Linked DNA regions of Homo sapiens: region 2 is linked to region 1. A link means that fine-mapping ties the variant in region 1 to the expression of a gene that starts in the linked region. Tissue or cell type: neutrophils. Region 1 holds a variant in brackets; the other region holds the start of a gene. All regions are shown on one strand. Distances are between the middles of the regions.

Evidence for each region. PIP is the estimated chance that this variant, and not a neighbour inherited with it, causes the effect.
Region 2: KIF1B starts here. The variant in region 1 is fine-mapped to the expression of KIF1B in neutrophils (CEDAR, PIP 0.95).

The regions. Positions count from the first base shown.
Region 1 is chr1:10,378,669-10,386,557 of GRCh38, reverse strand. It overlaps KIF1B (kinesin family member 1B), which reads right to left. Exons shown (of 49, transcript NM_001365951.3): 49 at 4,955-7,889. Among named protein-coding and RNA genes, the nearest start is that of PGD, 16 kb to the left of the region's middle. The variant A/G (reference allele first, on the strand shown) is at 3,749.
Region 2 is chr1:10,206,566-10,213,466 of GRCh38, reverse strand. It overlaps KIF1B (kinesin family member 1B), which reads right to left and starts at 2,897. Exons shown (of 49, transcript NM_001365951.3): 1 at 2,589-2,897. RefSeq lists an enhancer at 1,109-1,764 and silencers at 2,666-3,185, 3,216-3,295, 3,382-3,676.

The sequences.
Region 1 (7,889 bases):
AACAACAAAAGAAAAGCAGCGCACCAGACTCATGCATGCTTCCATGGGTCACCTGACTTCCCAAACTATCAGCTTTGCAAGAGACATGGGGATTTACTAAGCGTGCAACCCTAGTGAGGATTCAATCCTACATGCTCCTGGGTGAGGTCTAGTTGAGGGCACAACCAGCATAATATGCACTGATTCGGGGATGATCTCCCATTTTAAACTGCAAGTCCAGTTTCAGGAAGACGTGGCCTGACATAAGCCCTAGAGCTGACATTAACTAACTTTTTTTTTTTTTTTTTTTTTGAGACAAAAATCTCGCTCTGTAGCCCAGGCTGGAGTGCAATGGTGTGATCCCGGCTCACCGCAACCTCTGCCTCCCGGGTTCAAGTGATTCTCCAGCCTCAGCCTCCCGAGTAGCTGGGATTACAGGTACCCACCACCATGCCCAGCTAATTTTTGTATTTTTAGTAGAGACAGGGTTTCACCATGTTGGCCAGGCTGGTTTTGAACTCCTGAGCTCAGGTGATCCACCCGCCTTAGCCTCCCAAAGTGCTGGGATTACAGGCATGAGCCACCACGCCCAGCCAGACATTAACTTAAGACTGAAGAGTCCTAGCAATCCAGAGACTTGCAGTGTTCCTATCACTGAGCTGTCGGCAGCACTGTGGATATAAGCCAGGGTGCTCAGTTGGATCTAGGACCTACCTCTCTGCTGTGCACTGGCCCCCAGTCCCTCAGGCCCACTCCACAACTCTCTCCACCTCACTGTCTTCCCCACTGCCAGGTTTTCCCTCCCAGTTCATTTTTTCCAATTAGTACATGCACAAGCTATGCTATTTCCCTTCTTTAAAACAAAAGCCTCTCCTTTACCCCATATCCCCTTCCAGTTACTCCATTTGTCTTTTCCCTTTTACAGAAAAATCTATGAAAGAATTGTTTGTACTGTTTCACCCTCCTCTCCTCCCACTTTCCCTAGAACCTACTCCAATTAGGCACCACTCAAACAAATGCTCCCCTCACCAATGACCTTGCTAGTGTAGAAGCACTCCTGATGCCTCCCTCCATGAGAAGTGAGCCCCATTACTAGAATGTTCCTGTGAGTCTGGAAGGAGCGGTTAGGCATAGACTGCCTGGCCACTTCCTCCCTCTCTCTCAGAACCTCGGCTGCCTTCAGGGGACATATGCGCTGCGTTCCTCTTAACTTCTGCTACTCAAAGAGTGATCCCCACAATGGCAATACTGACATCACTTGGAAGCTTATTAGAAAAGCAGAATCTCAGGCTCCACCCAAGCCCTACTCAATCAGAACCTGCATTTTAGTACGATCCCCAGGGGATTCTGGTGCACAATAAAGTTCAAGAAGCACTGCTCTAAACCGCCTCATTCTGAGGTTCAGCCTTACAAAATAAATCCAGGCCGGGCGCGGTGGCTCACGCCTGTAATTCCAGCACTTTGGGAGGCTGAGGCGGGCAGACCATGAGGTCAGGAGATCGAGACCATCCTGGCTAACATGGTGAAGCCCCGTCTCTACTAAAAATACAAAAAAAAAAATTAGCCGGGCGCGGTGGCGGGTGCCTGTAGTCCCAGCTACTGGGGAGGCTGAGGCAGGAGAATGGTGTGAATCTGGGAGGCGGAGCTTGCAGTGAGCCAAGATGACACCACTGCACTCCAGCCTGGGCGACAGAGCGAGATGCCATCACAAAAAAAAAAGAAAAGAAAAGAAATCCAGTGTTCCCAGATGTAACCACATTTTCTAACAGCAGTTTTATCAGTAATAAGGGTGGTATTTTGGTCTCCCATCTCCCATCGTCTTATTTTTTGTTTCTTAATTGGTTCTGAAATTGGGAAAAATTAGGGTATCCCCTGGCTCCCTCGGACTTCTTACACCTTTCAGTTAACAAAACCTGTGGTCCCTGCTCAGTCCTTCCTGTAACCTATTGGCTGCCCTGGACAAAGCAACCACTTCCTCAGTCTTCCACACTCTCCCTCCACGGCCACTGCTTGTCCTCCTGGCTGGACTCCTCTCTCTTCCTGACCTCCATGTGTTGGAGCGCACCAAGCTCCAAGATCAGTCCTTGGTTCCTGTCAGCCACACACACGCTCCAGGTCTCCTTCCCTGCCTGAGGCTCGATCTGCTATCTTCATGCCGCCAACTCCCAAATGTGTGTCTCCAGCTCCAACCACTCCCCTTGAATCCCGCTAGTCCAGCCAACTGTTTTGTTGACTATACACTTAGGTGCATGTGTTGGCATCTGAAAGTGAACATGACTCAAATCAAATTATTATTATTATTTTGAGACAGTTTCGCTCTCTGTTGCTCAGGCTGGAGTGCAGTGGCGTGATCTCAGATCACTGCAACCTCTGCCTCCTGGGTCCAAGCGGTTCTCCTGTCTCAGCCTCCCAAATAGCTGGGATTACAGGCGCCTGCCACCACGCCCCGCTAATTTTTGTATTTTTAGTAGAGACGGGGTTTCACCATGTTGGCCAGGCTGGCCTCAAACTCCTGACCTCAGGTGATCTGCCCGCCTCGGCCTCCCAAAGTGCTATTTTCTTAACAGTCAGGGTCTCAACTCTGTTGACCAGGCTGGAGTGCAGTGGCAAGATCACAGCTCACTGCAGCTTCCAACTCCTGGGCTCAAGCGATCCTTCTGCCTTAGTCTCCTGGGTATCTGGCACTACTGGCGTGCACCATCATGCCCAGCTAATTTTTAATTGTTTGTAGAGATGGGGTCTCACTACATTGCCCAGGCTGGTCGGTCTCGAAGTCTTGGGCTCCAGTGATCCTCCCACCTTGGCTTCCCAAAGTGCTGGGATTACAGGCATGACCATTCTCAGCTTTTGTTCTACCAATTGTCTTCACCTTAGAAAACTGCAATGCTGTTCTTTTACTCAGGCACTTACCCTTTTAGTTACTTTTCTCCTTTCTCTCCAACAACTCTGCATGAAGTCTCTCAGAAAACTGTTCTAACTTCAAAATGTACCTTGAATCTGCCCATTTCGTCCCACCTATACTCTACTACCTTAGTCTGAGCCACCGTCTCCTCCCCTGGAATACTGGGGTAACAATCTTATTTTGCCCCTTTTTTCCACTTGTCCCTGCCTGAGTACAAAGACTGTTTTCCAGAATGGTCTTTTAAAAATGTAAATAAGCCCCTGTGACTCCTCTGCTCCAAAGCCTTCAATGGCTTCCCATTCACTCTAATGAAATTCCAAGTCCTCACCTAAGCCCTAAATATCCTGGTCCCTGGCTACTTTCTGATGTCTTCTATTGCGCTCCCAGTCCCTGACTCTGTACCAGCGACCTTGCTATTTCTGGAACCTACTGAGGACACTGCTGCCTCAAGGGCTTCATTTCTCTACTTGGAGACCTCTTTGCCCAGGGGTTTGCATGGCTTACCCTATCCTTTCATTCTAGAGTCTGCTCAAATGTGATCTCCGAAGAGAGGCCTTCCCTGACTATGCCATCTAAACATCCCTCGTTCCCATCCCTCTTTCATCCTTTTATTTAGCTGCTTTCCTCCAAAATACTTAGGACCGATGTTGTAAATTTGTTTAAACATTGTCTTCCCCACTGGAATGGGAGGGCACAAGTGCATGGGCTTGCTTTGTTGGCTGCTGAATTACTGCACCCAGCAGCACACCAGGCACAGGGTGGGTACTCAAATATTGGTTGGAACAAATCATTGCTTTTAACCTGAGGGCTGCTCCTCCCTCCCTTCTTCTGTTTCTCCCCAAACACCCAGGACAGTGGCCCCTGCTC[A/G]TGCTCTGCTCGTGATGAGGGCTTGTTAAATTAAATTGACATGTTCAACTTTTCAAATCCCCATTTACCCTTCCCCACCCAAAAAAACCCAACATGGCCAGGCACGGTGGCTCACGCCTGTAATCCCAGCACTTTGGGAGGCCGAGGTGGGCGGATCACCTGAGGTCAGGAGTTTGAGACCAGTCTGGCCAATGTGCTGAAACCCCGTCTCTACTAAAAATATTTTTAAAAATTAGCCAGGTGTGGTGGCGGGCACCTGTAATTGCAACTACCTGGGAGGCTGAGGAAAGAGAATTGTTTGAACTGGGGAGGCAGAGGTTGCAGTGAGCTGAGATGGTGCCATTGCACACCAGCATGGGTGACAAGAGTCAAACTCCATCTCAAAAAAATAATTATAGGTTGGGCACGGTGGCTCAAGCCTGTAATCCTAGCACTTTGGGAGGCTGAGGCGGGTGGATCACAAGGTCAGGAGCTTGAGACCAGCCTGGCCAACACAGTGAAACCCCTCTCTACTAAAAATAAAATCAGCCAGGCGTGATGGATGCCTGTAATCCCAGCTACTTGGGAGGCTGAGGCAGGGAGAATCGCTTGAACCCGGGAGGTGGAAAGTTGCAGTGAGCCGAGATCATGCCACTGTACTCCAGCCTGGACGACAGAGTGAGACTCCATCTCAAAATAAATAAATAAATAAATAAAATAATAATAATAATAATAATAATAATAATACAAAAATTAGCCACGCATGGTGGCGCACGCCTGTAATCCCAGCTACTCAGGAGTCTGAGGCAGGAGAATCGCTTGAACCCAGGAGGCAGAGGTTGCAGTGACCCGAGATCACATCACTGCACTCCAGCATGGGTGACAGAGCAAGACTCTGTCTCAAAAAGAAAAAAAAAAAAAAAAAGAAGCCAACACAACACTACAGAATTATTGGAAGGCATACAAGGAGGCTTCAGGAGAAAAACAACAAATCTTCTAGCTAAAATAACCACTTACATCTTTGGGAGAAAAGTACTTTCAAAGAAACAGCACCATATTAGCTTTCTTGGTTATATAAAAACCACGATTTTGAATATCAGAAAGGAATACTTAAGCGATGATATCGTGACTTCTGTCTTAGAAAGGTATTATCTTTGCAAATCAAGAAAAGAAATCTTTGTGCAATTACCTTTCAAGGGGTGCAAGAATAAATGCACATCGAGAACCTTCTGATGCACTGGCTGTACCTTTATTATTTTTACCTCGTTCACTAACAGCTCCGTGACGCAAGGTTACCACACACAGTTAGATAGTGTCTGCATTGCACATCTAAGGCTATACAGCAAAAGAATCAGAATTAGTACAAATACAAGAACTATATTTACAGTCTGTATACTCAAGCTCCAAACATCAGATAATATTTACAAAATAAAACATGAAAATGAAAATCCAAAATTAATGTACATTGTTGCTAATGTGCTCAACTCCTTCACGGGGGAGAGATCAGTTTGCAAAGTCTTGGTTCAAAAAGGCCACTTATGCATTATGGGTTTTGTTGTCATGTGTGAGGATGGTGACAAGAGACTTGAAATCTCAACAGACAGGTACTTTAGAGCCACAAAGTCTAAGACGATGCCTTAAATACAAGAAGGCTGAGGGACTCCTCAAGTGAGCTGATGCCAGAATAGGCAGAATGAAAAAAAATGAACTCGAAGACATGAAGAACAACACACAACAGCCACGGTTTGGCAAGAGACCAACCTCAGCTCAGACTTTCCATCTGAGCACAGCCGTTTGGCTATGAGCTTTTTACTGAATTTTATAGCAACTCTGATTTCTTCCTTTAAATGATTGGAGGCTTTTTAAAGATCTTATGGGGCTCAAATACTAACTTCATAAATGGCCTTTTGAATAACAGCAGCAAATAATCTCTCAGCTGATATTTCAATTTACTAAGGAAGCACAAATTAAAACATTCCTGCTACACAGTCATGGTCTGGCCACACACTGGGGTGAATCACTGGCCCTGGTGAACAACTGTAGTGCACACAAGTTAGAGTCCTATGTAAACACATCCAGCAAACCTTCTGGGAGCAGCAGCATCATGAATCTTTTCTTTTTTTTTGAGACGGAGTCCTGCTTTGTCACCCAGGCTGGAGTGCAATGGTGCAGTCTCAACTCACTGCAGCCTCCACCTCCCAGGTTCAAGCTATTCTCCTGCCTCAGCCTCCCAAGTAGCTGGGACTACAGGCACACGCCACCACGCCTGGCTACTTTTTGTATTTTTAGTAGAGACGGGGTTTCACCATGTTGGCCAGGCTGGTCTCAAACTTCTGACCTCAGGTGATCCACCTGCCTTGGCCTCCCAATGTGCTGGGATTACAGGCGTGAGCCACCACACCCGGTTGAATCTTTCAAGAGGCAGGTTAACAATCACATTTTTAAAAGGGAACCGAAAGGAAAACTGAAAGACCTAAGTCAAACAAGCCCTGATACTGTCCATTGGAACCCGAGCGGGACACAGCACGAGGGAAATGCAGAAAGAGTACCGATGAGTGTGCACACTGGAGAATCCTTTCTCTCCAATCCACTGTGCAAGTAAGTATAGCTGGATAAATATACATAGACCTGACAAAATTAAATATCCCTGTAAATTAGACAATAAGCAGCAGGCAACAAAGTCTTTGCTTTGGAATATGTGCCAGGAAAAGTCATCTTGTTTTTAGATCTCAAGAGACAGTTCACAATGACTTAGTTCCTTCATCTGAAATGAGCTGAAAAATCCATAAAAAATAGGAGAGTTGTCTGAAGTCTATGTGACTGAAGGGAAAAAATATATAATAGTGGTTTCTTAGTTGGGAAACTCACTCCATTGCCCCTTGCCGTCAGCACGTTTAACAACGAGCTGGGGCTCAGGTGCCCGGCCACTGCCACAAGCACCCCTTGCCTGTGCTCCTGACTAGCGCATGGGCTGGCTGGCCCTGCACAGTCCTGGCCTGAGCGCTGACTGACTCCCAGGAGGGCACACAGACACAGAGAGGGTCTGAGCACTGATTTGGGGCTGGTGGTGAGGCCATATTTTGCTTTGATGGGAGAAAGGAGGATGAGAGACAGAGGAGGAGGTGATTAGTATTAACTAGCACTTATTTCTCTGAATTTGCCTAAGAATTCTCTTTCCTGCCTTTTAAAGTTTTTGCTTATTTAAAGGCGTGCTTTAAGAAAATACATAAAGGTGGTTTCCTTAAGGGCTATGTTTCTTAACTTTCCCGCCACAACAGCAACAACTAGAGCCTCATAAACAGTTCCTGCCACAAATCTCTCACAGCCTCACAGTGGGGATGGTTCTGTCGGGCAAGGGAGCACCCACCCTGGACGTGCTGGGGACCAGCAAAGGCTGTCTGCACCTGCCAGCCGCAGCAGGGGCGCCCCAGAGGGTGAAGAGCACGCAGGACACGACCACTCTGCTCCCTCTGGCTCCCTAAGAGGCCTTCTTATTCAGGCACGCTATGAACAGACAGTCCAGTTTGGCCTGTTCTAATGTCTGACGCTTCCAAAGCAAAGACTTTCCAAACCAGTTTTGTATGAGTTAGAAGAAAAACAAAAGTCATTTCAGTGTATCACATAATTTCACTCTCTCTCAGGCTTCCCACCGTCCTGTGTCACAGACATGGATCCTCTGTCACACTCTGTAACAGCAGCATCAATGACTTAATTTTAAAAGTGACCTTCAAATTCCATCTTCATTTCCCTGAAATTAGATTTGATTCCAGTCCAGGCAGCCATCTCTAAGCACCGACAGATCCTGCTGGTTTGAATAGAACCGGAAGGGCATATTGTGTCCATCAGACAATGAAACTTCTAACTACATTAGAAAATCTCACATACCACTTAGAAAACAAATAACATCACAGTTAGTGACCTATGTTTTAACAGGAAGAAGAAAGTTAAAAAAAAAATCCGCCATAGAGTTTCCGCGGGTCACTTTTCAGGTGCAGACGCAGCCTGTGATTCTATCCTTTCCTTTCTCTCTCCGTGATTCACTTTTCCTCCTCTTCACAATGCAGTGATAAGGAGCGAAGCTGGGAGACCTGTTCTTCAGAGATGAGCCCAACCAGGAAGTGAGAAACAAGGTTGTGGATGATGACACAAGTCTCCCTAGCAA
Region 2 (6,901 bases), 170 kb after region 1:
AAGAAAGACTCCGTTGGCAGACTTTCTTGGACACTTATTCCCTGCACGAAATCAAAATGGGAAAGAAGAAAGAGAGAAAAAAGGAAAAGTGCATTCATATCTGGTCTTGAAAAGGAAAAACAGTCTGTTCTAAGCCTTAAAAGCTATACTTAATTGGATAAATTTTGGAAAAACACTCATCAGAGCAGAGCTACACATACTCATAAAACCTAGCCTCTGTATCAGATTCACAATCAGGTCTGATTTTACCAAATGCTGAAATTATTTTTAATCAAAAATATTCAGATCTTTATACTAATAAAGTAACTCTAAAAATTAAAAACTTAGAAATACTTCTAACTTAGGGCATGGAATTTCAAAACAGACATTCTGTATTTCTCTCATACTAGTGTAATGCAAAAAACACTAGTTTCTGTTGAAGTTACATTTGATTCAACAAGTTTTAAAACTAAAGCTTGATGACAAAAATAACAAAAAAATAGTGTTAAGACCTTGCTTAGCAAAAGCTATCCAAATTTTTTAAATGTGTGTGTGTATATATATATATATATATATATATATATATATATATATATACACACACGCATGCACACACACACATATATATATACACATTTTTTTTTTTAGCCAGGGTCTTGCTGTTGCCCAGGCTAGCCTCAAGCAATCCTCCCACCTCAGTCTCCCAAATAGCTGGGAATACAGGCATGAGCCACCATGCCCAGGTATTTATTTATTCATTTATTTTTGTAGAGACAGAGTCCCACTCTGTTGCCCAGGGTGGTCTCGAACTCCTGAGCTCAAGGGATCCTCCTGTCTCAGCCTCCCAAAGTGTTGGGATTACAAGGCATGAGCCACCACACCCATCCCAAAATTTTTTACATAGTTCAACCTGAGAAGTTATGAGAATGTATTTATGAACAAATTGAACTTGAATGAAAGCAAAGGCCACAAAGAAGAAAGCAGGCATGCCATCTCTCCAGGTCCTGTCCACATCTAGGATATAGAAAAGAACAGATCTACAGACTCATGCTGAACCCAGTTATTGATCATCTCCAGACCTGCTTTACAATACCAACCTATGTGTAATTCTCATATTCCACCTTCAAACAATACATTAACAACACTTGCTCTATAATCCAGCAACCATATCAACTTAATCAGAAAGCACCACCTCACTTCTTAGAGGAACACAAGAACTAGATTTTGTTATGACTAAACTAAGGAGACAAAATGCCAGCCTTTAAATAAAATATCCACCATGATATCACCTCTTAAGAGTTATTCAAATCTCATCAGCACACTTTCATCAGGCTCAGACAGGCACATCATGACACAAAGCGGAATGTTCAATGGTGGCAGAACAGCTGCTCAGAGCAGTAAGAGATATGAGCAAGGGATCTGTTGACAATCTAATTTCAGCTACCTCGAGATTCCACAAAGATGACAGCCTGCGTCCTCAGAAATGCCGCCACTAGCCTCGCCCACTATCAGAATACTCTGGTTTACTTCTTCTCTGCAAGTCGAGCGACTCTGAAAATCTATCCATCCAATGCTCTACGGCTACTCGAGGCCTCCATACTGATACAGTGGCCTTAGCAATTCTCAGATCGGCCTATGCACATGTAAAGCATCAGCAGGCCTTTCACAGCCCCCGCACTGGACGCAGAAGATGAATAGAGAAACACGGAATTTCACCCCAACAAGAATGGAATCTTGAAGGCAGTTTACCTTGGAAGCTCATTTAGCAATCAAGGAAAAAAAAAAAAAGGGATCTGGAAGCTCCATTCTGGCGTTAGGGGCGGGAATGTTTTGTGTTGCATGAACAATGACTAGCTTGCTCAAGCAGCCTCCCAACCCCCACAACTTGGCTTCTGGTCTGGCCAGTCACCCTGAAAGCTGCCAGGGCTGTCACTCGGTGCCTTCCAACAACTGGACTTGGCTCCTAAAGGATTTGTCAGATCATCCTCCCAATATGGCTGCCCGAGTAATCCCAGTCGGCTGAATGCCGAGACCACACCAGCCTTCCTCACACCTGGCCAGCATCCAACAAGCCCCCTCCCTTCCTATCGCACCCCTCTTTCCAGGCCTCGAGCCCTCGGCTCCCCCAGCGCCAAGCGATGACCTTTCCTATCGCCATCTGGCAAAGGGCATAACCACATTCCCAGCCGAAGCCCGATGCCCACCACAAAGGAGGAAAGGGGAGAGGGAAAATGAGAAACGATGGCTTCAAACGAAGCACAGCCGCCCCCCGGGCTGCAACGTGCGCGGAGCCCAGGGAACGGCCAGGCAGCGGCGGGTCTGGAGAGCGCTGGGCACAGCCGGGGCCTGGCAGCGCGGGGGAAACGGAGGGCCGGTGCAGGGCACTGCGGGGGCCCCAGCCGACCGCTGGACGCCGGCCCGGGACTCGCTGCTGGCCTAGGGAGGGGTCCCCTCCCCCGAGGGCGAGGCTCCCGCACCCGGCGCCCGTCCCGCGCTACCTCCCCTCAGACCCCGCCCGGACCCCGGCCCGGCCGCTCCTCCCCGCGGAAGCGGCCCCCTCCCCAACCCCGCGACCGCGGCGCCAACCGCGGCCAGCCCCGCCGCCTTACCTCAGCCGCGCTGCAGACCGACGGGCGGACCGGGTCAACAGGAGCCGCGGCGCGCGGGGGCGCGGGGGGCCGGGCACCGACGCACCTCAGCGCGAGCAGCGGCCGCCGCGAGCCGCAGGGCGCCGCTCCGCAGCCCCATCACGCAGCAGCCCGGCACCGCATCGAGGTGGGAGGTGGGCGGTGGGCGGCGGACAGGAGTGCGCGAGTGCGGGAGGCCAGGGCGCGGCGACGGCCGGCGGTGACGGCTGCGGAGGACGGGGAGCTGCTCCGACGCGCGCGGGCGCCTCCCAGGACCGCTGCCGTCACACTGCCCCGCTTCGGCCCTCGCGAAACTCCGCCCGCAGTCGCCGGCGCGGGACACCGCCCCGAGCTGGGCCTCTGCGCGTCACCTCGTATCCGCCCCGGCGCCCGCGACGGACACGGGCTGTGACCAATCACAGCACAGAGCTCGGGGCGGCCAGCCAATCGTAGGGTGAGCCGGGGAGTGGGGCTGCTGCGGGGGGCTGCAGGAACATCGAGCGCCCCCTGGTGGCCCTCGGGCCGGCTCAACCAGGGGTGCGGGCTGGCCAAAGCCGGAGCCCGGAGTTCCCTCCCGGGTGACCCCCAAGGGCATTCGTCGGAATCAGCCGCCCCCAGCCACCCCGATAATCCGCCTTATACGGGGACAAAAGATTGACTGAGTGGAGCGGGGCGGGGCCCAGGGGTCCTGACGCCCGCAGAGGAGCTGGGATCAACATGGGAGGCGCCGAGAGTGGAATCATTGTCCGTCGGAAAACATCTCGCAGGCGGAACCGGCCGAACGCGGCGCGGTGGGAGCGGAACCCCGAGAGGGGATGAGCGCATCCCGCGGGAAGCTGCCTGGCCTATTCTTACAGAACCCGAGCAAAACACCTCCCACGCGCCACCTCGGGAGAGAAGGCGGAATGAGTAATGGAAAAGCATGACTTGGTGGGCATTCCACTTGTCTCCTTGGGAGACCGCGGAAGGGCTGTGAGGAGAGGAACAAACGCTTTGCACCGTCCCTGAGTTAACGAGCCCAGCCCCCTTCTGGGAGATGCCCTTGAAGGAGGGAGAGTGGAAGTTAGAAACCCGGAGGACACAAAAGCACGAGCAGTGATTTCTTTAAAATCAGATTTAGATTCAGCTGGAAAGAAAAATCTCACTGTTCAGAAACTGTTCAATTCAGTACTTAACAAAATATAATCTTCAGTGATAATATATTCAATTATCAGGCCCAGGCCGAGCACTATTACTTTATAAGGTTGTGAATTATTTTTATTTACTAGCAGACATTGAAAGTAAAATCACATGTCTTCCCCTGAATTAAATACAGTATTATTGTGAGTAAAAGGTATTATGTACAAGCATATGCACTAAAACATCGAAATTAATTTTCTACACTAATAATTCTGGAAAATCTCCACCACCACTCAAGTCCTCAGACTCTTCATCCGCTTTTATTGATCACGTCTCATTTTATAGAATTTAAGCTCCACCTACCTGCAAAAGGATTTGACATAGCTTACACTAAAGCATACAGCAGTGAAACCGTATAGCTTTAAAATAGGCGTAAAATTCATAATAATGAAACAAGCAAGAGACTTTTTAAAAGCTGTTTGAATGAGAGGCATGCCTAGAAAGAAAAATTTTTTTGTTTTGTTTTGAGACAGAGTTTTACTCTCGCCCAGGCTGAGCTCAGTGGCACGATGTCAAATCTCTGCAACCTCCGCCTCCCAGGTTCAAGCGATTCTCCTGCCTCAGCCTCCCGAGTAGCTGGGATTACAGGTGCCTGCCACCACGCCCGGCTAATTTTTGTATTTTTAGTAGAGACGGTGTTTCACTATGTTGGTCAGGTTGGTCTTGAACTCCTGACCTCAGGTGATCCACCTGTCTCAGCCTCTCAAAGTGCTGGGATTACAGGAATGAGCCACCGCGCCCGGCCAGAAAAACAATATTTTAAAAATCCATAGTCAAGGAAATATGTTGCCACTGAGCACAGAACTCAGCTCTTAGCTTCCTGACGGCTAAGAGTAAAATGAAACTATAGTAGGTTAATAAAGAGGAACTCATCAATTCAACAGTAGACACCACTTCATCATAGCGTGGACCTCCTTGCGTAAATACTGTGGTGAGCGCCATGGAGAGTTACGAAAACCTGGGTGGCTGTATTGCTTGAGCTCTCAATGGAGCACAATCTAAAAAGAATCTAAAACGTAGTGAAGAACCAGGCGCGGTGGCTCACGACAGTAATCCCAACACTTTGGGAGGCTGAGGCGGGTGGATCACTTGAGGTCAGGAGTTCGAGACCAGCCTGACCAACATGGCAAAACCCCATCTCTACTAAAAAATACAAAAATTAGCCAGGCGTGGTGGGCACGCCTGTAATACCAGCTACTTGGGAACCTGAGGCAGGAGAATCACTTGAACCCGGGAGGTGGACGAGGCGGCAGTTGCAGTGAGCTGAGATCCTACCACTGAACTCCAGCCTGGGAGATAGAGTGAGACTCTGTCTCAACAAAAAATAAAATAAAATTTAAAACAAAAACGTAGTGAAGAGGGTGTGATTGTGATTGGCAGGAGAAGAAGCTAGCCAAAGGGCACACAGAAGGCACAGAAGGGTCAATAAAGGCAAAGAAGGCTGCTCCAGGATCCAAGGCCAAACAGCCCACTCTGCATAAGCCTTTTGCCTCTCTGACAGATGAAGTCACACTGCCCAGCCAGTTTCTCAGATTACAAATTCTGTATAAAAGCATCTCTTTAAAATGATAAATAAATTACTAGAAAATTGAATGTAGCCATGATCTGGTAGGGCTGTCTCTGGAATGCAAGGATACGAGAACATCAGAAGTCCTAGTCACGTGGTGCACTGCCACTCTCCCATCACAATCACAATCACAATCAGGTTTCTGGATACAAAATCAATACACAAAAATCCGAAGTGTTCCTTTTTGATAGGAAGACTTTATTATTACTATTATTTTAGACAGGGTCTCACTCTGTCACCCAGGCTGGAGTGCAGTGGTGTGATCACAGCTTACTACAGCCTCAACCCTTGCCCCCTGGTTTAATCCATCCTCCCACCTCAGCCTCCTGAGTAGGTGGCACTATAGGCACACACCACCACGCCCAGCTAATTTTTCTATTTTTTGTAGAGACGGCTGGTATCCAGCTCCTGGACTCCAGTGATCCATCAACCTCAGCCTCCCAAAGTGCTGGGACTACAGGTGTGAGCCACTGAGCCTGGCCTTTATTGCTATTTTTAATGGGATCTTTTTAAAAAATCAAGTCTTCCCGGCCAGGTGCTGTGGCCCACGCCTGTAATCCCAGTACTTTGGGAGGCAGAGTAGGCTGATCGCTTGAGCCTAGGAGTTTGAGACAAGCCTAGGCAACATAACGAGACCCTATCTCTACAAAAAATACAAAAAAAAAAAAAAAAGTAGCCAGACATGGTGGTATGTACCTGTAGTCCCAGCTGCTTGGGAGGCTGAGTGGGAAGATCAATTGAGCCTGGAAGGTCAAGGCTACAGTGAGCTATGATTGCACCACAGCACTCGAGCCTCAATGACAGAGTGAGATCCTGTCTCAAAAAAAAAAAGAAAGAAAGAAAAAAAGCAATAAAAGCTATTCAATATTTAAGAATAAATGCACCTGTAATCCCAGCACTTTGGGAGGCCCAGGTGGGTGAATCACTTGAGGTAAGGAGTTCGAGACCAGCCTAGCCAACATGGTGAAACACAGTCTCTACTAAAAATACAAAAAATTAGCCAGATGTGGTGGTACATGCCTGTAATCCCAGCTACTCGGGAGGCTGAGGCAGGAGAATGGCGTGAACCCAGGAGGTGGAGCTTGCAGTGAGCCGAGATCTCACCACTGCAGTCCAGCCTGGGTGACAGAGCGAGACTCTGTCTCAAAAAAAAAAAAAAAAAGGTGCAGGATAATAGGTGCGGGACAGTGGCATTTATACATAAAGTCTGAAGTATGAATATGAGCACTATACTGTTTAGGACTAAATTTATGTATAGTCAAGTGTGAAAACATGGATGGCAATGACAATCATCAAATTCAGGATGAGATTAACCCAGGAAAGAAAGAGAGAAAAACAAAACAAACAAACAAAAAAAGGGAGGATGACATGAGGATCTGCAACTTTATGTGTAATATTTTATTTCTTGAAAAACAAAATAACAGGAAGATGGAAATGTTGAGTTGGGAGGAAAAACCAGAGAATTTATTGATTTGTCTTGAACTCCTTATTGTTATTATTATTTTTTGTTTGTTTTTTGAGATGGAGTCTCGTTCTGTCGCCCAGGCTG